Linked DNA regions of Homo sapiens. The protein of the gene in region 1 interacts with the protein of each later gene in a biochemical or structural test. Each region holds a gene or a part of one and is shown in the gene's direction. Other genes may lie near its edges. The genes, in order: THRA, PTGES3, GTF2B, POU2F1, MED1, AKAP13 and RANBP9.

Region 1 (4,168 bases):
ACTAAGACATGAGCAAGGGCAGCCCAACTTGGGTAAGCTGTGGCTCAGAATCCCACACTCGCCAAGTGACTCTGCCCAGTATAAACTGGGCGATTAGCCGAGCAGCTCCCCCTAACACACACACACTTACACACACACACACTCACACACACACCCCTCCCCAAGAGCAGACTATGTAGCCAGGGCCCCACCCTGAGAGCCGTGGGAAGGCTGTGGCCCCCGCTGGTAAAACTGGGCTAATGACAGCAGGGGAACCGGCGGGGCCAGGGGGGTGCTGGGGTAATTAGGGCTCGGCCTGGCGCTAGGAGATCCTGAGATGAAAGGTGCTCTGGCGTCACTGGGTTGGTTTTATGTCCATGAATGCAGGTGTGTGGTGTGTGTATGTGTGTGCTGGGGGTGGGGCTGGCATGGTGGAGACCTCTCCTTTGGGTTGGGTTAGGGGGTCCATTTGTATGCAGCCCACCGTCTTCCTTAGATTGACTCTGGTACCATTTGGATTTTTGTGGGAGCAAACATGGGGGGAAATACCACCACCCGGGAGCTAGGAATTGAGGGGGTATGGCAGATCTTGTCCCCTCCCCGAGCTCAGGAGAGGGAGCAGATTGTTGGGGGAAATGGCTGGTGACAGAGAATAGAAAGAGCCTATATGGAGAAGGGTGACGTTGGAAAAGGGAGGCAGTGGATCGGTATTGATGTTAGAAATGAGAGGGGAGGGAGGTAACAGGGAATGAACCCCCACAAGGATGAAAAACGTAAGATGATTGAAGTTAAAAGGACATCAGGGGTCACCTGCCCAGCCCTCGCAGCTGAAGCTTGAGGAAGCTCTGCCCCCGACAGCAGTGGCGATTTGTCAAGGTCACACAGTGAGTTACCGGCGGAGAAGGGACCCGAACTCCCAAACAAACTACACCTGCAAGCGTTTGGTGTTTAGACTTTCTCCCCGATGTATAAGGTGCAGGCTGCTCGTCGATACTTCCTCCTCCACCCTCACGGTGCACACCCGAAAACCCCCCAATTCTCCCGGCAAGCAAAGGCTATTTTTTAATGACATCTTTTCCAAAATATGTCACCAAGTACCCACTCCTGCGGGAGCCGCCCGGGCTGGGGAGGGCGAGTCCGAGCGGGGCGGGGCAGAGGCGGCCGAGGGGCGGCCGGACCTCTGGCGGGGGTCCCGGGGCGCGGCAGGGGGCGGGGGGCGGGGGCGGGCGGCGGCGAGGCGGCCTGCAGGGAGCAGCCGCGAGCCGGCCGGGCGCGCCGAGCCCGAGCCCCAGCCGGAGCGGGGCGGGGGAGGGAGGAGCCAGAGCGGCCGCCGCCTCTGCCGGAGGAGCCGCGGGGCCGCCACACTCGCCCCCCGCCCCCCCCGCGCTCACTCGCACTCACACCCGGGCGCAGGAGGCGGGCGGCCCGGGCCCCACCGGCCCCCCATGGACGCCCCCAGCACGGGGCGCTGAGACCCCCGCGTCGCTGCCCAGCCCGGTCCGGCGCGCCACGCCGAGGTAAGGAGGAGGGAGCGAGGGGGCATTAATATGCAAATGCCTTGCGATTGATTATGCAAAGCCGCGGGGCTCCGTGGCCAGCTCCCAGGCGGGCTAGGGGCGCCCAGGGGGTGCCTGCTGCCAGCCTCAGCCTTTCCTGGCGCCCCAGTGACCCTGTCACGAGCCCGGGAGCTTGCAACTGACGCCCTGGGGAAGGGAGGTGTTGCTAGGAGGTCGCTGGGCCCCGGGGTTCGCAGGCGGAGATGGCGTCCGAGCCTCCCCCTGGAGGGCCCGCCCGGCCTCTGTCCGGCCAGTCTGCTGCGCATTCCCGGGCCGGGCCCCGTTGCCGGCCGCCGGAGCTCCCCCGCCCGCCGCGCCGCGGTTTGTTTACGGTGCGCCGGAGGCCTGCCCCCCCAGCCCCCACCCCTAGCCTCTGAGGCCCGAGTGGCCTTTGCAAAGCTGCCTCCAGCTGCGGAGGGCAGTATGAGTGCGGTGGCGCGGGTGGGCTTGCACGGGTCCGGGGAGAGGGAAGTTCCCCCGCCTCACCCGCCTCCCGGTTGAGCATGGCTGTCTGGTTGCAACACTGCTAATTGCAAAAACGCGGTTGTTGGGGGGGAATGTGTGTGTGGAAGGGGTGTACTTGGTGGTGCCTAGATGATTAGGAGAGTTGCTGGCTGGGGAGGAGAGGGAGAAATGGACCTGTGTGTGTGTACCCCACCTTGTTTCCCTCCCCTTGCAACGTGTCTCTGGTGCCCCTTCTCCATCTGGGGCCCTCCCTTGTCCAGCGTGAAAGAAAGGCCTGGGGGGATGACAGGGGCAATTGAAAGAACCACCGTTCCAGGGGTGGGGGTGGGGGACACAGAAGGAAAGCCAGTGAGGTGGGAGCCTGCCCCTCAGTGCTGGCTTTGGCTCCAGGAGGGGGAGGGGATGAAGGGGGCTGTTGTCCAAAATGAGGGGGGAAGCAAAAGTGACACGCAGACACAGAGATATGTCCACACAGACAGCCACATGCACATCCAGGGACACCCAGGCAGACTCAAGGACAGGAGCTACTGGACACACCCACATGGGGACAAGGGAAGAGACAGGCTGCTGCTGCACCGTGGAGCTCTGAGGGGTGGGATATACCCATGGGAGACCAAGAGCATGGGGACCGATCCATGCACATACCCACGCACAGGGTCACACGTAGATGCTGTCACACACTGGGGCAAGGAGGAGTTGCTGTCACCCACACATAAAAAGTCACTGTCACATGCATGCATGCACACAGAGCAATTGCACACAGCAGCACAATTACAAAAGACCCTGTCACTCACAGGCACACACGTGCTCGCATGAGCCCAGTCACACAGACATCATTGCTTGCCGTGACAGTCGCTGTCACTCAGTCAGATGCAAACACAGTTACACACCAACACATGTATACACAACTTAGCAACAAGTATTTTCCTGGACTCTTTACTGTGGAGCTCTGAGGTTCTGTAGGCAACAAAACCCTTGCTCCCAAGAATATTAAATTTGGCTGTATGAAAAAGTGTTCCTGCGTAATGGTGTAAAGCATGCATTCCCAATGACATGTTCTTGGTCTCTATCGCTTGAGATACCACCCTACTAGACAGTGAGCTCTTGGAGACCTGGGAGAATCACTTAAAGAGCTCTGGATCCCACGCAGAGCCTAGCACAAGGGCTGCTCTGTAAATACTTGTTAGTTGATTGACTGTGGAACCTGCAGACACAGGTGCACTCATTTGCACATGGTCCCCTGAACTCAGGTGCAGAATGAGTTCACAAGGCCCAGGTCCCCACAGTTGCAGGTCCACACCAACAGTCGTGTCCACACAACCCCAGATACACACAACTGCAGCCTGTGCAGCCGAGCACACACTTAGATGCACACAATCACAAATTTTTCCCCTTCAGCTTCCTCCTCCCCTTTTTCCTCTAGGCTCAGCCACTGTGCGGGAATGGGCTGTTTTTTTTTTCTTTCTTTCTTTTAGAGGGACAGAGAAACAAGAGCAAAGACAGTGGGTTCAGGGGGGTTCCAGAGGGCCGAGTCATGGGCTCAAAGCAGTGTCCAGTGACTTCTAGAAGCTAGGATTCTCTTGACTGTTGGGGAAGGGGAGAGCTGCTCTCCTCCCTACCCTAAAAGCTCAGGGGTGTCTAACTGCCCCTGCTCTGAGTCATTTGCCTGGGTCTTTCCTGGGAACAGTCAGTCACTTCCAGCTGAGTTCCTGCGCCCCACCTTGAGTCTGGCCCTTTTTCCCACCTGTACCCTCCTGTCCAAACTTGGAAGCTTTCCTTAAGAGGCCATCGGCTGGCGAGTGTCTGTGTGAGTGATATGTACTTTTGACTTGGAATTTCTCTCTAACTCTGTCTCTCTGTTGCTCTGTCTTGCAGTGTCTGATTCTCCCTCTCTCTCTCCTTGTTTCTCTGCCAGTCTGTAACTCTCTCTCACCCTGTTGCTACCCCCGATCTACCCCTGTCCTTGTCTCAGAGCTGGGGACTGGCAGCAATGTTCTTCATACTTTTCCAGTTGTTAATACCCAAGCTCCGCCCCTCTGCCCCCCCTGCGCAGCCTCTGGGGTCAGCTTGAGGTTGGGGTGGGGGGCGGGGGGCTCAGCTGGCTGCTCAGGACTTCCTGCACTTCCTTAGTGCCGCAGCTGTGGCCAGCAAGTTTTAGGGGCTGGGAA
Region 2 (3,500 bases), on another chromosome or scaffold:
CTATAGGCATAATGCTGTACAGTAGTAGGTCTCTGGAACTATGCATTTTGTGTAATTGGAATTTGATACCTATTTAACAGTAGCAACTCTGCATTTTCCTTCCCCCCAGCTCCTGGCATCTACCATTCTACTCTCTATTTTTGTGTGTCTGACTATCTTAGGTATCTTACATAATCTTAGGTATCTCATATAAGTGGAATCATGCAGTATTTGTCCTGTGACTGGCTTATTTCACATAGCATGACGTGCTTCAGATTCTTCATTGTGTTTTGTCACATAAGGCAGATTTTTTTCTTTAAGGCTGAATGATACTTTTAGGCTGAACACATTCCATTGTATGTTTGACTATCTTTTTAAGGTCCTTTCCCATTCTAAAATCTGGGTAATCATGTATTTTTGAAGTTTGATTTTTTTTCCATGCATATGTGATTTTATTTTTCTAAAATTTAAACATTACAAAAATGGTTTAAACTTGAGAAAATAAGTTTCTCATCATCTGATAATAGTTTAAGTTTAAATCATTTCTTGGTTCTTCACAATATCTAAAACCATGATGAGAATACCAGGCCTGGCACAGTGGCTTGCTCCTGTAATCCCAGCACTTTGGGAGGCCGAGGCAAGGGGATCACTTGAGGCCAGGAGTTCAAGACCAGCCTGGCCAATATGGTAAAACCCTGTCTCTACCAAAGATACAAAAACTAACTGGGCGTGGTGGCATCTGCCTGTAATCCCAGCTACTCAGGAAGCTGAGGCAGGAGACTCCCTTGAACCCGGGAAGCGGAAGTTGCAGTGAGCCGAGATTGTGCTGCTGCACTCCAACCTGGGCAACAGAGCAAGACTCCATCTCAAAATAAAAAAGGCTTGGCATGGTGGTTCACGCCTGTAATCCCAGCACTTTGGGAGGCCAAGGTGGGTGGATCACTACAGCCCAGGAATTCGAGACCAGCCTGGGCAACATGGTGAAACCCCGTGTGTACCAAAATACAAAAAATTAGTTGGGTGTGGTGGTACGCGCCTGTAATCCCAGCTACCCTGGAGGCCGAGGCATGAGAATTGCGTGAACCCAGAGGCGGAGGTTGCAGTGAGCTGAGATCACGCCACCATACTCCAGCTTGGACGACAAAGCTAGACTCTGTCTCAAAAAAAAAAGAATACCTTAATACATGTTCCACCTAACTTAAGATAGATAGCTGTGCAACTACAAATGAATCCCATTCTTTTCCTTAACCACCAGAGGTAACCACTACTCAAGTAGAATTTTTAATGTTTGTCAAACCTGTTGCATGAATAGCTTTGCTTTTCTTTAGGGAAAATTTAGTTTTAATTTCCATATGGGTTTTTAGGATTTTGTATAATTACCTATAATCTTCCTTTTCCAGAAGGGAAAGATGCTTATATTTGCATTTTGCATTTTTTGATATCTGTGGCAGACTTAAGGTTTATTCTGAAGCATACAGCATTAATAATTAGGGCCTAACTTAACATCATTTTTAAAACTAATTTTTACACTTCAAATAGATGATGAACAACATGGGTGGTGATGAGGATGTAGATTTACCAGAAGTAGATGGAGCAGATGATGTAAGTCTAAAAATTCTTTTTTCTGTTTACTTTCATACTATTAAATAGTAAGAAACAACATATTTACAAATGGTTTTATATAGATTCACAATTACTTCTTATTTTCTAAAAAAAAAGAAAAGGGAAAAGCAATTTTTAAAATGTGCCCATTTTTGACGAATGGGGGTATCTATTAGGGAACTGGTTGTACCGTAGACCATTCCTAAATGGATTAGATTTCCAAAGAATCATTGTATAGAGACATTATATATTAATACCGTACTCAATTATAACAGTCAGTTTAGGCCGGGCGAGGTGGCTCATGTCTGTTATCCCAGCAGGCCAGGTGGGCAGAGTACGTGAGGTCAGGAGTTCGAGACCAGCCTGGCCAACATGGTGAAACCCTGTCTTAAAAACTTAGCCAGACATGATGGCAGGTGCCTGTAATCCCAGCTACTGGTGAGCTGAGGTGGGAGAATCGCTTGAACCTGGGAGGCGGAGGTTGCAGTGAGCCAAGATCACACCATTGCACTCCAGTGTGGGCAGCAGAGCGAGGCTCCATCTCAAAAAGAAAGAAGAGAGTCAGTTTATAGGTATGATTTTGACTAAGAAAGTAAGTTAAATAGGTTTTATGTCAGGATTGGTCAGAGACCGATAAAACAGATGGACATTGGGAGGCGGAGATGGGTGGATCATGCGGTCAAGAGTTTCAGGCCAGCCTGGCCAAGATGGCGAAACCCCATCTCTACTAAAAATACAAAAATTAGCCGGGCATGGTGGCGGGTGCCTGTAATCCCAGCTACTTGGGAGGCTGAGGCAGGAGAATCGCTTGAACCCGGGAGGCAGAGGTTGCAGTGAGCCGGATCTCGCCACTGCACTGTAGCCTGGGTGACAGAGCAAGACTCCATCTCCCCCCACCCAAAAAAAAAAAAAAAAAAAAGATGGACATTGGAAATCTGTAAGAGGAAGATACACTAAACTACTTTTCTCAACATCTTTCCAACCCCAGCATCCTGTTAACATCTCCCAGAAAGTTATTTAATGCTATTTAGAAAAACACTTAATATTCACTCAACAGCTAGGATTAGAGTTCACTGTCTTCTATCAGTCCATTTTTCTTCATATTGATCCATGTTTTCTCTTTGAATGCCGAGATAGGTTAATTTAGGAATGGATTCAACGGGTGGGCTAAATTGTCACCAAAAGGCACACATCATTTTTTATAGGTAGATAAATCCTCTGCTGTACATCCATTCACCTTAGGTAAACCTAGTCAAGTCCAATGACTAAATTTCTAGGCTTGATATGACTACCTACCTGTGCTACTTTAGTCAAAAATATAGCACTTGAACTTTTTTAGGTAAACTGTTCAGTTAGCAAACGAATATTTGATCAGCTCGGTAACTTTATTTTCCCTCTTTCAGGATTCACAAGACAGTGATGATGAAAGTAAGTGTATATAAAAAGTATGTTTATACAGTGATACTTTGCATCAAAAAACAAACTCAAAATAGAGATGTTAACTTCTTTGGAAGTAAAGTAATTTTTTCTTTATGACCTTGAATAAATAACCAAAGCAGAAATGTGAATAACTTGATAGCAAGACAACCTATTAATTCATTGGGCAACTATGTATTTCGATTTTTGGTTGCTTTTCCTTTAAGACAGTAAAATTGGTAGATTATTCACTTGTACTATATACTAATATTTTTAAAAATTCTTTCAGAAATGCCAGATCTGGAGTAAGGAATATTGTCATCACCTGGATTTTGAGAAAGAAAAATAACTTCTCTGCAAGATTTCATAATTGAGAGAATTCCTGAGTTGATAGCTCTAAAGGCAGATATGCTGTATTTGCCTACTTTAACCCATTTTTCAACCTGTTTGTTTTTTAAAAGGCTTCACTAAGGGTTGATATGTACCATTGTATGGGGCAATTT
Region 3 (3,500 bases), on another chromosome or scaffold:
GCACTTTGGAAGGCCGAGGCGGGAGGATCACCTAAGGTCAGGAGTTCGAGACCAGCCTGATCAACATGGTGAAACCCCATCTCTACTAAAAATACAAAAATTAGCTGGGTGTGGTGGTGGGGCTTGTAATCCCAGCTATTCAGGAGGCTGAGGCAGGAGAATTGCTTGAACCTGGGAGGTGGAGGTTACAGCAAGCTGAGATTGTGCCATTGCACTCCAGCCTGGGCAACAGAGCAAGACTCCATCTCAAAAAAAAAAAAAAACCCACGTTTAAGACATCATTCCTCAACGTCAAAATGTTAAGAAAATATGTTTTGCTTTTTAAGCAGCTCATAAAAAAAATGTTCAGAGACATAACCCTGTGAACAAACCTAATTTTTTTCCCATTTGAATTATTTTAGTTTGTACATCTTTTATTCTTACAAGTTCTTTTTTCTCCCTGAATATATTCCTCCTGATCATTTTGAATACTCTTTTCCTTTCCAAACTTACCTTTTTAAATCTTAGGGGTCAGGGAGGCCATGCTTTGTTTCTCACTGCTTGGCATGGGATTCTACAGATAGACACACTGTAAAATACGTGTTGGCCATCAGCCTTTAACATTCTGTGAAGGTTGGTTTTTTCCCATTTTGCACAGTATTTTACAGTTTCTTAATACAAATTCTGAAATAAGTAGATGTAAGTAATTCAGCCTTCTAAAGCTATGTTTAAATTTAGTGTTGTAGGAAAACTTTCACCAGAAGTATTAAGTGAATTTCTTTTCCTTTTTTTTTTTTGTTTTTTTTTTTTTTTTTTGTTTTTGAAACAGTCTCCCTCTGTTGCGCAGGCTGGAGGTACAGTGGCACAATCTCAGCTTACTGCAACCTCCACCTCCCGGACAAGCTATTCTCATGCCTCAGCTTCCTGAGTAACTGGGACTACAGCCACGTGCCACCACGCCCAGCTAATATTTGTATTTTTAGTAGAGATGGGGTTTCACCATGTTGGGCAGGCTTGTCTCGAACTCCTGGCCTCATGTGATTCGCCTGCCTCCACCTCCCAGTGTGCTGGGATTATAGGCACAAGCCACCACACATGGCCCACTAACTCCCTTTTAAAGTTAGAAGTGACTACTCCTTTCTAAGTCTTTGAGGATTACAGAAGTTATTCATGAACAAATGCATGTAAAGAAATTCATAAACTAGGTGCGGTGACCAGCCTCCTGGCCAACATGGCAAAACCCTGTCTCTACTAAAAACACAAAAAAATTAGTCGGGTGTGGTGGCACATATCTGAATCCCATTTAGTAGGGAGGCTGAAGTAGGAGAATCACTTGAACCTAGGAGGCAGAGGTTGTAGTGAGCTGAGATCATGCCACTGCCCTCCAGCCTGGGTTGATGGAGTGAGGCTCTTTTTCAAAAAAAAGAAAAGTTGGTGGCAGGTCGCGGTGGCTCACCTGTGTAATCCCAGCACTTTGGGAGGCCAAGGTGAGTGGATTGCTTGAGGCCAGCAGTTCAAGACCAGCCTGGCCAACATGGCAAAACCCCATCTCTACTAAAAATACAAAAATCAGCCCAGCATGGTGGTGCACACCTGTAGTCCCAGCTACTCGGGAGGCTAAGAGACAAGAATCTCTTGAACTTGGGAGGCAGAGGTTGCGGTGAGCCTAGATTGCACCACTGTACTCCAGTCTGGGAGACAGGACTGTCTCAAAAAAAAAAAAAAAAAACAAAAACAGAAAGTGAATTACTGGCCTCAATAACTTTGTAATACTTTATTCACAACAGCCTTCAGCTTAGGCTATATGTTGAAAAAAGTAATAAATGATAGGAATAATTAGAGAAAGAAAGCCAATCATTAGTTATTTGAAGGAGCCATTATCCATTCCCTTTGGCCTTCACTCACGTTTTAAGGAAATTTTGAGTCTTTTAGTAAAATTGAGAAGTTGCAGCTAGGCAGTTTGTCCTTGAGGTACATTCCTAGTTGTAAAGTTTATTCTAATGAACAACATGAAAACATTAATCTTGTTGCTTTCTGCTTTTTGGCTTTATATGTAAAGTCTTCTTCAAATGTAAGGTCTTTCTCTTCCCTGCACAGCAGGCAGTTGACATTCAAATAGTTGGCATTTATTGGTATTTAGATGTAGAATAATGTAATGCAGTGTGAGATACGGAAATTTAAAATTAGCTAATTGTACAATGATGGCAGGCATTCACAGTGAAAATCACTAAAACCTCACTGATTTGAATCAACTGAAAAGGTAGTAAAATGAATTTGTATTAAAAGGTGTTTAGGCCAGGCGTGGTGGCTCATGACTGTAATCCCAGCATTTTGGGAGGCTGAGGCAGGTGGATCACCTTAGGTGAGGAGTTTGAGACCAGCCTGGGCAGCATGGTGAAACCCTGCCTCTGCTAAAAATACAAAAATTAGCTGGGCATGGTGGCAGGTGCCTCAGCTACTCAGGAGGCTGAGGCAGGAGAATTGCTTGAACCGGGGAGGCAGAGGTTGTAGTGAGCCGAGATCTTGCCATTGCACTCCAGCCTGGGTGACAGAGCAAGATTCCATCTCTAAATAAATAAATAAATGATGCTTAAAAATCCATTTTAATAAAGCATTCATAATACTTAACCAAACATTGTAGTGGCAGTCCTTTAGTATTTCTTTTAATGACTTTGAAAGGAAAAAAGGGACAGCGACTTTAAAGGGTAAAAGTGGATCTGTTAGGATTCTGTACAATGTTCGTTTGAGCTCAAAATATTTAAGTATGTGCTTGTATCAGTGAAAAACATCTCCGTATGCTATAATAAGTAGCTGTTTGATCTCTGATGTATTAAGTAGAAAAAAAGATTGTAGAACAATATTTATAGTATCACATTTTGTTTTTAATAAGGACCCCTTAACAGAAGTTAGCTAGGGGAGATTTTGCATGGGAGCTTTCAAACACAGAAATATAAAGTGAATTTCTTTACAAGAACATATTTGTGGAGTACTTTTGTGATCCTCAGAAAGATTTATAAAGAAAAAGGAGGAGTCAGTTGTAAATACAATACCCAGTATAAGATGATAACACTCCTAATACTAAGACCTGAACACTATTCATATATTTTATGTTAGTTAAACCCTTTAAAACATTGACAACCCTGTAAGGTAGTAAGTACTAGTAATCATTTTTATTGTTGCTTGTTACTGACTTTAGCTCCCACTTTTTTTTTGAGACAGTATTTGGTTAAGTATTATGAATGCTTTATTAAAATGGATTTTTAAACATCATTTATTAATTTATTTAGAGATGGAATCTTGCTCTCTCGCCAGGCTGGAGTGCAGTGGTGCGATCTCGGCTCACTGCAACCTCCTCCTCCTGGGTTCAAGCGATTCTCCTGCCTCAGCCTCCTGAGTAGCTGGGACTACAGGCGCATGCCACCACGCCTGGCTAATTTTTTGTATTTTTAGTAGAGATGGGGTTTCACCATGTTGGCCAGGATGGTCTCGATCTCCTGACCTGGTGATCCACCCGCCTCGGC
Region 4 (3,500 bases), on another chromosome or scaffold:
AGATATAAACAGGAATGGCTGGAAAATGAACAATATGCTGTGTGTTAAACGACTCATTTGTGCTTAAACATATGATTACCTTAATGGAGTTGCACTGATACCTTAAAGGGAATATATTTTTATATGGAAAAGTGACTTAGGTGTTTTCTTGTTTTAGTACACTTATTTTAGTGGTCTGCTTAATGAAAAATACAGCCTTTTTTGGCTGATTCATACTGCAGCAAGCAATATTATAATTAATGTTTTAAAGTAGTTACCATCCTAGTCTATAAAAGGTATCTGCTATGTACCTGGTCCTATGCCTGTAGTCTTTGGGAATAACAAGGAAATATGACTGCTGCGGAGGAGTTGGTATGTTTACTTAAGCAGGAAAAATTGAAAAACAGTGTATATAATTACATATTAAAATATGTAACAGATAATGAAGATTGGAGAATAGATCAGAGTGTGTCCAAGTTTGAAAGAGCCAGAGCATCCTAGAATATATTATAGCTGGAAGGTAATTTAGATATAATCTTTGCTAAAGGTTTTGCTTCACAGATGAGGAAATATTTTCACAATGGTTTAGTGACTTGCTCACAGTCACTTAACTATTCAGTAACAGATAAGAACACAAGACTTCTAACTTTCTCCCACCTCCCAGTCTCTCCTCCTGCCCCATTGCTGTCAGTCAGAGAAGGCTTTATGTAGAAGGCGAGACTTTTAAACCGAGCTTTAAAGGGCAAAAAGAATTTAGAGGAATGGGAATACAGAGAAGGCCATTGAAGGGGAGATTGTGTTCAACATTGTGATGTATAGGTAAAGAATGAGGAAGCATTTGTTCTATCTGCAGGAAAGCTGTTGGAGGATTTTGAAATAGGGACTGATGTGATAAAAATGGTGTGTTAGGAGTAATGTGGTGTGCAGGATGGTTTGAAATAGGAAGGGAGAGATTAGATCCATAGAAACCAGTGTATAGAGGTATTTGGTTTATTAACTAATTACTGTAGGTGCTACTAGAGATACAAACATAATTTAAAAATTACTTGACCTCAAGAGACTTCCAGTCTAATTTATGAAATAGATAAGTCGTGATAAAGGTGTTGAGGATATTGTCCAATTACATTACATGGAATAAGGACGTTTGGGAGAAATTCTTACCTGGCCTTTACAGTAGAAACTATTTGTTTTTAGTCTTATGGACACTGAATTGTCTAATTGACTTAGTTTCCTTTTCAAATCAAACTACAGTTTGATTTGGTCAAATTTAGGTCAGATTATTAACCTGAGAAGCACATGCATAGGCAATTACGTTTGCATTTCTTAGCCTGATTAGTAGATCAATTTTTTGTCCATGCATTTGTTTTGTATTTCTTGTATTGCTTCCATCTTTAAACTCTTTTTATCTTGTTTTATGTGGGCCACCTTACATCCTTTCTGGAGCAAGGCAGGTATAAATAATATTACCATAACCATGGCACAGTGATAATGTCTGTATTTTTATAGTACTTTAAAATTTATAGCCACATTCTCATTTTCATTACCTCAGTTAGTCCTTTCAGGCAAGCGTTACTATACCCATTTTATAGTCGAGTAAAATAAAACTTAGATTAAGTGACTTTCTCAAGGTCCTGTGTTTTTATAAGCATTAAGTGTGGGTAATAGCAAGACTTCCAGCTTAGTTGTTATTTAGGCTGTGTATTAAGGCACTTTGGGGCTCTATTGTGGAGAGCTCTGAATCCTTTGTGTTGGTGTAAGAGTTTGGATTTTATTTGCTAGGCAGTAGGAAGTCACTGAATTTTTTTTTTTTAATTTTTTTTTGTTATGGACAGTGCCATGATCAGAGCCCTTAAAGTTTAGCAGCTAATTAGATGCAAAGAGATTATCAAGGTTTTGAGTTTAGGTTATCCAGAAAAGAGCATTACCATAAGCAGATGTAGGGATGTTGGGAAAAGGAGCCATTTGGGGAGTAAGTCAGTGAATTCACTTTGACATGTCATTTGAGACATGTTTGGGTGGGTCTTATTGGGTTGTAGATTCCTTGTGAAAATTGAAAATTTTTTAGTGAATTAAATGTTTGATAAACATTAATACTAGGGTTGAAATTTATGCTCATGCCACTGTGCGTGTGGACTGAGTATTGAATCTGAACGTTGTAAATTCTAGATATCTCATTTTGGCTTTGGCACTGTCTTCTAAGGTTATTTCCTTCAACAATACGATGGTGATAATACCAGTGTTAGAGGGATGCTGTGGGGAGTATCAAATTGATAGCAGAAGCATTTTTAAAGTAACTCTGTAATAGTTTTTCTTACATGAGCACAGGAGTAAAATCAGGAATTTTATTACTTGTGCTGCTGTAGAGAAGCAGAAGCTTTAGCAGCCGATGGATTCTGTGGGGCACCTGACTGTAGGTTGTTCATTTTTTGGTGCAGCCAGCATCTTAGGAGGAATGGACACTCCTAATACTCTTCTGAAAACTTTATACAGTGGAGGTGTTGCATTGTAGCAAATACAACTTACCTTGATTTCAGGGCATTCTGTTATCTAGCCCCTACCCTTGCCTATGCATTATTATCTTTACTACTTCCTTAAATAGCATGACTCAACAATTCCATCAAGGAAGTTCCCTTATTGTCCATTTCTACCACAAATACAGCATATTATCAGATTTTAATTTTTAAAGAAATTTCCCTAAAATTTGAAGATCTATCTTGGGAGGATGGCTATAATTTATCCTGAGACTTACCTGAGCCTTTCTCCCATTACCATCCTTGCAACACCAATCCCAGTTTGAGACACATGACCTGAATGTGTACCCAGTGTTTTGGTCAAGCCAGTGTGTTTGGGACGTTGTGTGAGAACCTTTACTCACACTTTTTCCTCCATTGGAAGGCCATGGTGTATGGTATGGTAGAGTGAAAAAAGGTACTGGGGGGTTCAGAGACCTGGCTTCTCTGTCACTAATTAGCTTAGTAACTTTAGGACAAGTTACTTCACCATGGATTTTTTTTTTAATTGCATTTGTAAAATAAGGGATTTCAAACTTTTAAAAGCCTTTGGTGTTCTTTTTTAAAGGCAAAAGTGGAGCTGTTCTGATTAAAATTGGATATTGGAGCAAGAAAAGCATTTTCCTCCTCCTTTCCACAGTAGCTTTTGAGGCACTTTCACAGGGTCCTTAGGACTTCTGCTGGTCATGACTTGAAAACTTTTGTCCTTATTTATCTTAAGGGACCTGTCTGTCCATTTCTTTATCTCCACAAATAGCCATCTGTCAAATCTGAGCTCCTGTCATACTTTCTCTGAAATTAGCACTTAATTTGTGTTCAGTTACCCAATTCAGCACTTCATTATACACAGTCCTATTTTCTTCTCTAATTGATTATGTAAGTAAATCTTGTCCTAAGAGCCTTGAGTGCAGGAACATACTGGTAGGGACAGAGTAGGCCTAGACATTTAACAAATAATGAATGCTTGGTTGATGGACTTAGTGGTTCTCAATCTTTGTCACCATGGGGTGA
Region 5 (3,500 bases), 650 kb from region 1:
TCCTCCCACCTCAGTGTCCCAAAGTGTTGGGATTACAGGCATGAGCCACTGTGCTGGGCCAGGAGATTCTTCTCATGGAAATAAAAATTGCTTTAGAAATGAGAAATTTTTAGTAGTTGGAGTAATAACATAGAGCATATATGTTCAAAGTTGTGGCACTTCTGTTTCATGTGTTAAAATGCCTTAAGAAGTCTCCAGATAGCTTTAGGGCATTTAAAAATGAGTTTTCATAAGGCAGTTATGGAGCTAATCCTATAGAGAGGCATGCTTTTTACAAAGAAAGTATATGATCCTTGTGTCTAGGCTGCTAGCACATCTGGCATAAGAACATATGATGATGGCTAGATATATGTGGAATAAATACATTATTTTAGATTATAGCCTCTATATCTCTGCTTGCCAAACTATGGGCTGCACATCTAACAGCTGCAAACACTTGATAGAAAGCAGAGTTTATGGCAGTGGTTCTGGATATCTGCTTATCAAGTAGAATGAGACACTCGGCCACTTTTATTTTCAGAATTCACTTTTACATTTTAGGGATTAAGTTTCTTCATCTTGGAAAATTGAAAGTCTAGCTACTTTTGTTCTGGAGAAATTTATAACAAACTGGCAGGTTCCTTGGAATCTGATTCCTTCTGTCATCTGTGGATGACATATAGTAGGTTTTGTATGTGAAAAAAGTGTGCGATTTAGTTTCCAAGGAGGGAGAGAGAATTTCAGTCTGTACATTTAAGGAATGTTATTTGTGTGAAGTCTTTTTTTTTTTTTTTTGAGACAGAGTGTTGCTCTGTTTCCCAGGCTGGGGTTCAGTGACATGATCTCGGCTCACTGCAACCCTTGCCTCCCAGGTTGAAACGATTCTCCTGTCTCAGCCCTCTGAGTAGCTAGGATTACAGGTGTGCGCCACCACACCCGGCTAATTTTTTTTTTTTTTTTTTTTTTTTTTGAGATGGAGTCTTACTCTTGCCCAGGCTGGAGTGCAGTGGCACGATCTCAGCTCACTACAACCTCCGCCTCCTAGGTTCAAGTGATTCTCCTGCCTCAGCCTCCCGAGTAGCTGGGATTACAGGCATGTGCCACCACGCCCGACTAATTTTGTATTTTGTATTTTTAGTAGAGATGGGGTTTGTCCATGTTGGTCAGGCTTGTCTCGAACTCCTGACCTCAGGTGATGAGCCCACCTCAGCCTCTCAAAGTTCTGGGATTACAGGCCTGAGCCACTGCATCCGGCCTCTTTTTTTTATTTTTTAGTGGAGTTGGGGTTTCGCCATGTTGGCCAGGCTGGTCTTGAACTCCTGACCTCAGGTAATCCACCTGCCTTGGCCTCCCAAACTGCTGGGATTACAGGCGTGAGCCACCGTGCCCAGCCTGTGTGAAGTCTTATATTTGGTTGTTTTATGATCTTTCTCTTTGCCTTTTAGATTCTCCTGGGCTTCTCCAATTTGAAGTGTGTCCTCTCTCAGAGTCTCGTTTCAGCGTATCTTTTCAGCACCCTGTGAATGACTCCCTGGTGTGTGGTGAGTTGTGTGGGTGGCTAACACCTCTCATGGAGCGGTTTGGTCCCTATGTCTTTTTTGGAAAAGTCAGAAGCTAAATCTAAAACAATTTCCTATGTATTTTGTCTTTCAGTGGTAATGGATGTGCAGGACTCAACACATGTGAGCTGTAAACTCTACAAAGGGCTGTCGGATGCACTGATCTGCACAGATGACTTCATTGCCAAAGTTGTTCAAAGGTAGCCTTGGCCCTTTTTCATCTGAGTCCCATTTAGAGATGTATAAAGAATGTTGTTGAGTAGGGCGCGGTGGCTCACGCCTGTAATCCCCACACTTTGGGAGGCCGAGGCAGGCGGATCACGAGGTCAGAAGATTGAGACCATTCTGGCTAACATGGTGAACCCCCATCTCTACTAAAAATACAAAAATTAGTCAGGCGCGATGGCGGGCACATGTAGTACCAGCTACTCGGGAGGCTGATGCAGAAGAATAACTTGAACCTGGGAGGTGGAGGTTGCAGTGAGCCAAGATTGCGCCATTGCACTCCAGCCTGACGACAGAGCAAGACTCCGTGTTTTTGTTTTTGTTGTAAAAAAAAAAAAAAAAAAAAAAAAAAAAAAAAAAAAAAAAGGCCGGGCCTGGTGGCTCACGCCTGTAATCCCAGCACTTTGGGAGGTGAAGGCGGGTGGATCACGAGGTCAGGAGATTGAGACCATCCTGGCTAACACAGTGAAACCCCGTCTCTATTAAAAATACAAAAAATTAGCCCGGCATGGTGGCGGGCGCCTGTAGTCCCAGCTACTAGGGAGGCTGAGGCAGGAGAATGGCATGATCCCGGGAGGTGGAGCTTGCAGTGAGCCGAGATCATGCCACTGTACTCCAGCCTGGGCAACAGAGTGAGACTCTGTCTCAAAAAAAAAAAAAAATGTTGTTTTCAGAATTAGCATGAATTTCAAATAAAGGAGCAATTTAGTTATTGCTTTGATTTCACCCTTCTCTGCTTTCGGATTCAAAGTAATCTAAGCTTTGTTTTTTTTTTTTGAGATGGAGTCTTGCTCTGATGCCCAGATTGTACAGTGGTACAATCTTGGCTCACTGCAACCTCTGCCTCCCGGGTTCAAGTGATTCTCCTGCCTCACCCTCCTGAGTAGCTAGGATTACAGGCATGTGCTACCACACCTGACTCATTTTTGTATTTTTAGTAGAGACGGGGTTTCACCATGTTGGCCAGGCTGGTCTCGAACTCCTGACCTCAGGTGATCTGCCTGCCTTGGCCTCCCAAAGTTCTGGGATTACAGGCGTGAGCCACTGCACACAGCCAGCTTTGTTTTTTTTTTTTTTTTTTTTTTTTTAATGATATTACTATGAGAGTAATGGGAAGTAAAGTAGGTAACTTCAGGCCTGGAATTATGGTACTTTAAGGCAGGAGAAAGCCATAATAAAATACAGATATTTTTCTTACCTATCCTGTGTGCCAATTCTTCATAGATGTGACATTTTTATCTTTTTATTCTTTTATTTTTTTATTTTGAGACAAGAGTCTCACTCTGTTACCCAGGCTGGAGTGCAGTGGTGTGATGACGGCTCACTGAAGTGTTGACCTCCGAGGTTCAGGTTATCCTTCCACCTAGACCTCCTGAGTAGCTGGTACTGCAGGTGTGAGCCACTGTGTCTGCCTGAGCAGATTTCACAACTTAAATGTTAGGCTGGGCGTGGCAGTGCATGCCTGTAATCCAGCACTTTGGGAGGCCAAGGCGGGCAGATTACTTGAGGTCAGGAGTTCGAGACCAGCCTGGCCAACATGTTGAGATGTCATCTCTATAAAAATACGAAAATTAACCGAGCATGGTGGTATCCGTCTGTCATTCTAGCTACTTGAGAGGCTGAGGCAGGAGAATCACTTGAACCTGGGAATCGGAGGTTGCGGTGAGCCAAGATTGCGCCACTGTTCTTTAGCCTGGGTGATAGAGTGAGATTCTGTCTCAAAACAAACAAACTAAC
Region 6 (3,500 bases), on another chromosome or scaffold:
ATTCAAGTCCTCCTTGCCTTTCTGGGCCTAGAGTAGTCATTGGTAACAGCTAGCATTTGGTGATTTAACCCTCAAATGACTGTATGAAGTTGGCACTGCTAACCCCAAGAGAAGTGAGGAAACTGAGGCTCACAGAGGCTAACTAATGTGCCAGCGGCCACAGAGCCTGCGGCTGAATTCCACTAAATGCCTCCCTGTTCATGTACCACTTTTTCCCCTGAATCCTTCTCTTTAGGATTGATCTCTCCTTTCTGTGTGGGAGGTTAAAGAAAAAGTACATTTTCCTGGCCTCTTCATAAATTCTAGTGATTATTTAAAAGTTAAAGGGAGCATTAGGCAGTGAAGGATATCACTTAAGAACCTTATTAACCAAATTTGTTCAGAAACCCCGGTGCGCAGAAGAGTTAATTGCCCATAAGCCCCAGTCGCCTGTTTGCATTACAGAAGACTTTGGGATGGGGAGGAAGTTCAATGAAAGGAGCAGTTTTTCTGAATTTTTTTCATTCTTGGTTTTCACATTTCCAGATGGTCCCGCGTCAGAAGTATCAGCAGAGGGTGAAGAGATCTTCTGCTGACCCTCTTCCTCTCTGCTGAGGCAGCTGCCTCCTGATCCTGGCCAGCCCACCTCTCCTGCTGTCCCCGCGTGCACAAGTCTCTTACACTGGACGCCCACTGCTCCTCAGCGTCCAGTCCTCCTGGGCGGCCCCAGGTCCTGGACAATAAGCAACAGATGATATTGAGTGTCGGGTGGGGAAGGAGGCCCAGACTCTGCTTCGGCCATGATTTGTGACTGCCCAGGACTCTCAGGTTGGGCTGGCCCTACTCAGGATTACACTGAAAGTAATGGCCTCGTAAGTACAGGTGATGGTTTTGGACACGTCAGGAATTCCTAAAGGCTGAAAGAGTGTATCCAAGTAAGGTCTGAACCTCCGAATGCCTTTTATTTGGGGGAACACAAAACCAAACAGCAGATGTTTTGGACTTGATCTGTGTACGTACATGGGGACCTGTCTGCATATACACACGGGGAATGCCAGAAGAAGGCCCAGTCTGCACCAGGCGTCTGGTCAACTTAGCACAAGGGCAGTGCCTGGACGGACCCGGAGCCCCCGCATATCAGCAGTTCACCCAGTACTCCTCAGAGACTGGTTTCCCTCTAAACCCATCCCGGGCACATACCACCCGTGTTTTGCATGTATTTCTCATTTCATTTTAGGGATGACAAACATTTGTGAAACCAGTGAGAGAAGGCTTGATGTGTATAAAAGACGTGATGTGCACCACCTCGATCTCGGTGTTTCAGGCACTAAAGCAACAAAACAACCCATAGTATCTCATTCTGTCATCAGATCCAGAAGAAATATCCTGGTTTTCCAGCATGTTTACCCACATGTTTTGGCCATGGATAAAGTGAAGAGGCCTACTCACCATTATCCCTGCAGCGTGACACCTTTTGATTGTCACTGACCACTCAGAAGGGGCCACGGCCTCCTGGCTGTGTTCCTGAGCCCCCGTCGTGCCTCTCCCAGACAGCAGCTGTCTGGCCCTTGCTGGGTGAGGGCACACCACTGCCAGGGGTCAGCCTCGCACCCAGGCCAGGCAGAAGCTGTGCTCTGAAGCTAGGACAGCTGGCTGAGAAGTGGGTTCAGGCGAAGGGTGAAGCCATGTGTAGCAGTTCCTGCCAGTGCAGATCTGGAGAGGAGCTGGCCCGGAAGGCGTGGTTGTGAAAGCGCCCTTCTTATGTTAGGAGGCCTTGGCAAAATTGGATTTCTTCAAAAATACATGTAAAGGTCTGTTGTTGAATTGTACTCTGCCCCTGGAAGCAGATACAGATGGCTGCCTGCTGCTCGGCTTTGCTTTTGCTTTTCCCACCGTGTTTTCATCTTTGTTCACTTGAGGCTTTCCCCAGCTGGTGTGTGCAGGACAGTTCATGGTAATGTTGCCCTCTGAGGCCCCGTACACCAGAAGGGAGGCCCTGGAAAATTTTGTGCTTCCAACGTGGCCTTCAATTCTTGCTTTTTTGCCCCTCGGAAGCATGGGGCTTTTGAGCACACTTAAAAAAAGAAAAATCTGTAACTTGGTGCTTATTGATGAATTGCAAGCTGGCCTTGCAGATGGAGATATTTATCTTTCAGTTTATTTGAAAGAGGTCTGGTTTAAAATTTGTAGCCTACATTTGTTTTATTTATTGTATTTGTGTGTTTGTGTTTGTTTTTTTTTAAGGGTGAGCCAGGTCTAGCCCAACAGTCTAAACTATCCAGTCAATACCGAGTGAAGTGGCAGCCAGCACTGTTCACTCTGTGTCTTTTGAAGTGCCTTGAAGGCCCAGATGAAATTTTAAAGGGAGGGGGTCCATGTCCTTCCCTCCCCCACCCCGCCTCATTCTTTAATCAAAGGATGTCTTCTCCCTTGTTTGAGAATGAAGAAACTCGCCACCTCTGACCTACCTTTGCCTTTTTCTGTCATGGAGAATACTCACCCTTCAGAAACAGACCAAAGGCCAAAACCTGCTGATTTTTCTATTGAAAATATGTCCCCTTGCAAAGACCCTAAACAAAAAGTTAAGTTTCTTTCTTTCACCTATTTGTACAACTCCAAGTTACAGCTGAATCTGTCGTGACTTTCCTGAGATCTACCCGGGGCTTGGCTGTCTGTTCTGGGCACTGGCTCCGAGTTCCCCTCCTGGGATTTGCAGGAGGGCAGTACTGAACCTGCATTCTTCTCCTTGTAAATGTAGGCCGGGTGCCCCTGTTCTCCGGGTTTGGAACAATACGAGGTTGGTGCTGATGGGATTTACTTGCGTACGTGCTCTTCACAAAAACACCGTGGATGCTGAAGTTAGAGCACGTCGCCACAGAGCTTGACATCAATGTTAGAGGGTCTCTTACTCCCCGCCCAGCTGTGATGTTTCATCTGCTTTGGTTGTTTTGGTGGTCTTTTTTAAAAATAGAGATTTCACATCTGCCCAGACCCCACTCAAAACGATTTGGTCAGGTTCTGGTTGGACAAGTTTAAAATCAAAGTAGTGCCCGGAATTCCCTCAAACCACCCAACTTCATCCAGGAATACAGTCTGCAGTGCAGCAACAGAACCGCTTACCAAGAACTGTGCTTACATACCTTTGTCATCTCTCTTCCCCCCTTGGAAGTTGTCCTCAGGGGGATTTGTTCCTGTCCTGGGGATTTACCTGGGATGGTGGCTGCCTGTGCTTTTGCTCATGGCCTTGACAGTGCTCTAGTTGCTGGATCTAATGGCCTGTCTTGGTTTCTATCACATGAGAAGGGGTTGTTTTTTTGGGGTGACTCGGACTGAATTCCCCATACTGTTTCCACGCCGGGACACCATGTTCTCCATCAAGCTAAAGAAATCACGTGCCTGAAACTGTGCTTAAGTTTTGGGGGAAAGATGGAGTTCCTATCCAGAGCCCCCAGATTTCCAGAATCGAGTGAGCTTCCTGGAAGGAGACTGCGTCTTCTCTCAATTCCAGTCATCTCAGTCGT
Region 7 (3,500 bases), on another chromosome or scaffold:
ATCTCCTGGATTCAAGTGACTTTCCAGCCTCAGCCTCCCAAGTAGCCGGGATTACAAGCGCCTGCCACCACGCCTGGCTAATTTTTGTATATTTAGTAGCGATGGGGTTTTGCCATGTTGGCCAGGCTGGTCTGGAACTCCTGACCTCAAGTGATCCGCCTGCCTTGGCTTCTCAAAGTGCTGGGATTATAGGCGTGAACCACTGCACCCAGCCTAATGATATATATTCTGCTAGACTAGACAATTTATATGTGTTTTTCACTGTTCATTTCTTCATTTATTTAATGAGCTTTTAGTGAATGTTTACTTTGTGCTAGGTTCTGGACACTCAGAGGTGGAGAAGATACTGTCATTGAATTCAGAGAGCTCAGAGGACATAAAATAGAGTAGTAAGGGAAATATTATAGAGAGTACTGTGGAAAATAGGAGGAGCGTATAACCCAGGCTGACATTGGAAAGAATGAAGGAAGTGTAGGTATCAGGGATAGCTTCTTGGAGGAGTCGAGGCTAGTGGTCAGTCTTAAAAGATGAGTAGGATATAGGAGAAAGGGAGGGGCTAGGTGTTGCAAATGAAGGAAAAGCAAAAACATAGAGAATTACTTTATGTGTCTGGTTTTACAAGCAATTTTGGGTTGGCATTTAGAGTATGTGACAAGGAGCATCTGGGAAAAGATCAATTAGGAGGCTTTTTTTTTTTTCTCTTTTGAGGCAGGGTCTGACTCCATTGTCCAGGCTAGAATGCAGTGGTGCGATCTAGGCTCACTGCAACCTCTGCCTCCTGGGCTCAAGTGATCCTCCCACCTCAGCATCCTGAATAGCTGCAACTACAGGCACGTGCCACCATTCCCAGCTAATTTTTTGTATTTTTTTGTAGAGAAGGGGGTTTTGCCATGTTGCCCAGGCTGGTCTCGAATTCCTGAGCTCAAGCCATCTGCCTGCCTTAGCCTCCCAAAGTGCTAGGATTACAGGCAGGAGCCACTGTACCTGGCCCAGTTAGGAGCCCTATGGAATATTTTGTTGAGTTTAGATCTTATTCTGTAGGAGATGGAGAATCATCAAAGGATTTTAAATGGGAAGTGACTGGCTCATATCTTCATTTTTGTCAGATTACGCAGCTGATTGGAAGATAGATTCAAGAGGTTACAAGAGTGGGAATAGTAAATTCATTTAGAAGACTATTGCAGTAGACCATGTTAGAATTGACCTCAGCTGGGTCAGTGGTAAGGCCAGAGAAAGGCAGATATATTTGTGAGATATTTAAAAGTAATACTGAGAGGATATGAGGAATGATAGTGAGAGAAATCAAAGAAAATGTTTGGGTTTCCAACTCTGTTAGGATGATGTTTGGGTCTTTAGCTGTTAGGCTCTTGCAGTGAACCATGAATAAAATAATGATTGTGAAGGAGACTGTATTACAGTATAGTTGGAGATAAGTAAAAATGGGAATCTCAGCCCTGTGATCTGACTTCATGGAAACCAGAAGAAGCCAAAGAAACAAGCCTTACAGAAAGAACAGGAACAGGTCTTTTGGAGTTAAGGGGACTCTAACTGGTCTTAATAGTCATGACTTAATTCTATTCTATTAAAATGACTCAGCTCCAATCACTAGTTTCTGGTTGTTTTATTTCTTTTTCCCTACTGACTGGCTTATCCTTTCCTTCCTATGTCAAATTCCTGAGAGACTTAACAGATTGGCCTGGCTAATTGCTATGATTCTTAGTTGGGCAGAGCTTTTCAATACAGACTATGTTGTGAATTGGTGGCCTTCAAGTCAGGTGCTAACCTGTGTTGAATCAGCTGTAGGAATGGTGGTAATTATAAAATACAAAATACCCTGCTGGTACAAGGATAGTCTGGGTCTCACTTCTTTCGGTAGGGGCAATGTGTGAGGCAGTTTCTCCTAGGAAGGGTTGGCAGTTAACCATAATTGATCTGAAGCTTGGGAGAGAGGTCTAGGTCGTGACTGATTTAGGAGTCACTTGTAGGTGGTAGTTGAAACTCAGAGTATTTGAAAGAGAGAGGGAGAATAGAGTGAGAAAAAGCAGTGGGCCAAAGATGGGGACCCTGAAGAACACCAACATTGAAAGACTAGAGGGAGCACAAAAGAAATGGTAGGTCCCCAGACATCAAGGAGATTGGTGTCACAGAAGCTGAGCACGGGAGGGTGCAGTGGCTCACACCTGTAATCCCAAAACTTGGGGAAGTCGAGGTGGGAGGACTGCTTGAACCCAGGAAGTTGAGGCTGTAGCCAGCGGTGATCATGCCACTGCATTTTAGCCTGGGCAACAGAATGAGACACTGTCTCAAACAGCCTCCCCACCTTCCCTAGAAATGAGGAAGTGATATTTAGTGTCTGTTGCAACAGATAGGTTTAGTAGGATAGGCACAGATAGTTTTCCACTACGTTTGGAAATTAGATCATTGTGACTTTAGGGAGAGCAGTTTGAATTGAGTGATGGGGCAAAAACCAGATTTCAGTGGGTTGAAAGAGTAAATGAAAGGACCAAGTAGAGAGGATAGTGAATAGAGATTATCCTTGAGAAATATAGATGAAGGAAGAGATGAGGCATTTCCTAGAGGAGGATGGAGGTTAAGGTAGGATTTTTTTTTTCTTCTAATTTTTAACGGCTGATAGTGGAGTTACGTTTTACCTGGTGTTTAGCTTCTAATGTCAGCATAGAAGATGAAAATCCTACATAACCAAAATTATCCTTAAAAATTCCTTTGGAAAGTATTGTGTTAGAGACCACTGTGTCATTTCTTAGTCAATCTTGTTTTAATTTGGTTGTATAGGTAAAACTGAAGCGACATAAATTAAATGAAAATACTATATTATATTAGTCCAAGGTATGGTGTTCCAGGAAATGTATACAAAATTTAACATTTTAACAAATAAAATTGATTAGCCTACCTGGTTATTATTACTATTTTTTCTTGAACAGAGTCTCGCTTTGTCAGGCCGGATCCCAGGTTTAAGCAATTCTCCTCCCTCAGCCTCCCGAATAGCTGAGATTACACACACCCGCCACCATGCCTGGCTAAGTTTTATGTTTTTAGTAGAGATGGGATTTCACCATGTTGGCCAGGCTGGTCTCGAACTCCTGACCTCAAGTGATCCACCCACCTTGGCCTCCCAAAGTGCTGGGATTACAGGCATGAGCCACTGCGCCCAGCCTTGTTATTACTTTTAAGGTAAAAAATTATATACCACCAACTCTGGTACATTACTGACAATGATTTATATGTAGCACGGAGGCATAGAATTTGTGAAAAGTGTACATTTTGGGGACATTGTCCCTTTACAGATTGAGGGGAAGGAGAGATTAGAGAGGAAGATAATGAAATACAAGCTTGAGAGGCTGACAGAGAGGCTTCTAGAGAGGAAACTGGTTCCAGAGTCCAGAATGGTTGGTCTTGGAGAGGAGAGTACAGACTGTTCTTTGATAATAGTGGAAGAGGTGAAGACTGCCGTGGACATAGATCACTTTGTAATAAAAGAG

Evidence for each region.
Region 2: the proteins of THRA (region 1) and PTGES3 form a complex in vitro, tested with the Homo sapiens proteins (one study listed by BioGRID).
Region 3: the proteins of THRA (region 1) and GTF2B form a complex in vitro, tested with the Homo sapiens proteins (one study listed by BioGRID).
Region 4: the proteins of THRA (region 1) and POU2F1 form a complex in vitro, tested with the Homo sapiens proteins (one study listed by BioGRID).
Region 5: the proteins of THRA (region 1) and MED1 form a complex in vitro, tested with the Homo sapiens proteins (6 studies listed by BioGRID, with this or other methods).
Region 6: the proteins of THRA (region 1) and AKAP13 form a complex in vitro, tested with the Homo sapiens proteins (one study listed by BioGRID and IntAct).
Region 7: the proteins of THRA (region 1) and RANBP9 form a complex in vitro, tested with the Homo sapiens proteins (one study listed by BioGRID).

Annotation. Positions count from the first base shown.
Region 1 is NC_000017.11:40,061,597-40,065,764, forward strand, and holds the start of THRA (thyroid hormone receptor alpha), read left to right. Parts: upstream 1-1,368; 5' UTR 1,369-1,496; intron 1,497-4,168.
Region 2 is NC_000012.12:56,664,285-56,667,784, reverse strand, and holds part of PTGES3 (prostaglandin E synthase 3), read left to right. Parts: intron 1-1,518; coding exon 1,519-1,581; coding exon of another isoform or gene 1,582-1,629; exon of another isoform or gene 1,630-2,978; intron 2,979-2,984; coding exon 2,985-3,009; intron 3,010-3,286; coding exon 3,287-3,306; 3' UTR 3,307-3,500. UniProt on the Homo sapiens protein: Cytosolic prostaglandin synthase that catalyzes the oxidoreduction of prostaglandin endoperoxide H2 (PGH2) to prostaglandin E2 (PGE2).
Region 3 is NC_000001.11:88,853,568-88,857,067, reverse strand, and holds part of GTF2B (transcription initiation factor IIB), read left to right. Parts: intron 1-3,500. UniProt on the Homo sapiens protein: General transcription factor that plays a role in transcription initiation by RNA polymerase II (Pol II). Involved in the pre-initiation complex (PIC) formation and Pol II recruitment at promoter DNA.
Region 4 is NC_000001.11:167,227,386-167,230,885, forward strand, and holds part of POU2F1 (POU domain, class 2, transcription factor 1), read left to right. Parts: intron 1-3,500. UniProt on the Homo sapiens protein: Transcription factor that binds to the octamer motif (5'-ATTTGCAT-3') and activates the promoters of the genes for some small nuclear RNAs (snRNA) and of genes such as those for histone H2B and immunoglobulins.
Region 5 is NC_000017.11:39,413,264-39,416,763, reverse strand, and holds part of MED1 (mediator of RNA polymerase II transcription subunit 1), read left to right. Parts: intron 1-1,424; coding exon 1,425-1,520; intron 1,521-1,632; coding exon 1,633-1,738; intron 1,739-3,500. UniProt on the Homo sapiens protein: Component of the Mediator complex, a coactivator involved in the regulated transcription of nearly all RNA polymerase II-dependent genes.
Region 6 is NC_000015.10:85,744,103-85,747,602, forward strand, and holds part of AKAP13 (A-kinase anchor protein 13), read left to right. Parts: intron 1-525; coding exon 526-575; 3' UTR 576-3,500. UniProt on the Homo sapiens protein: Scaffold protein that plays an important role in assembling signaling complexes downstream of several types of G protein-coupled receptors.
Region 7 is NC_000006.12:13,701,836-13,705,335, reverse strand, and holds part of RANBP9 (ran-binding protein 9), read left to right. Parts: intron 1-3,500. UniProt on the Homo sapiens protein: May act as scaffolding protein, and as adapter protein to couple membrane receptors to intracellular signaling pathways. Acts as a mediator of cell spreading and actin cytoskeleton rearrangement.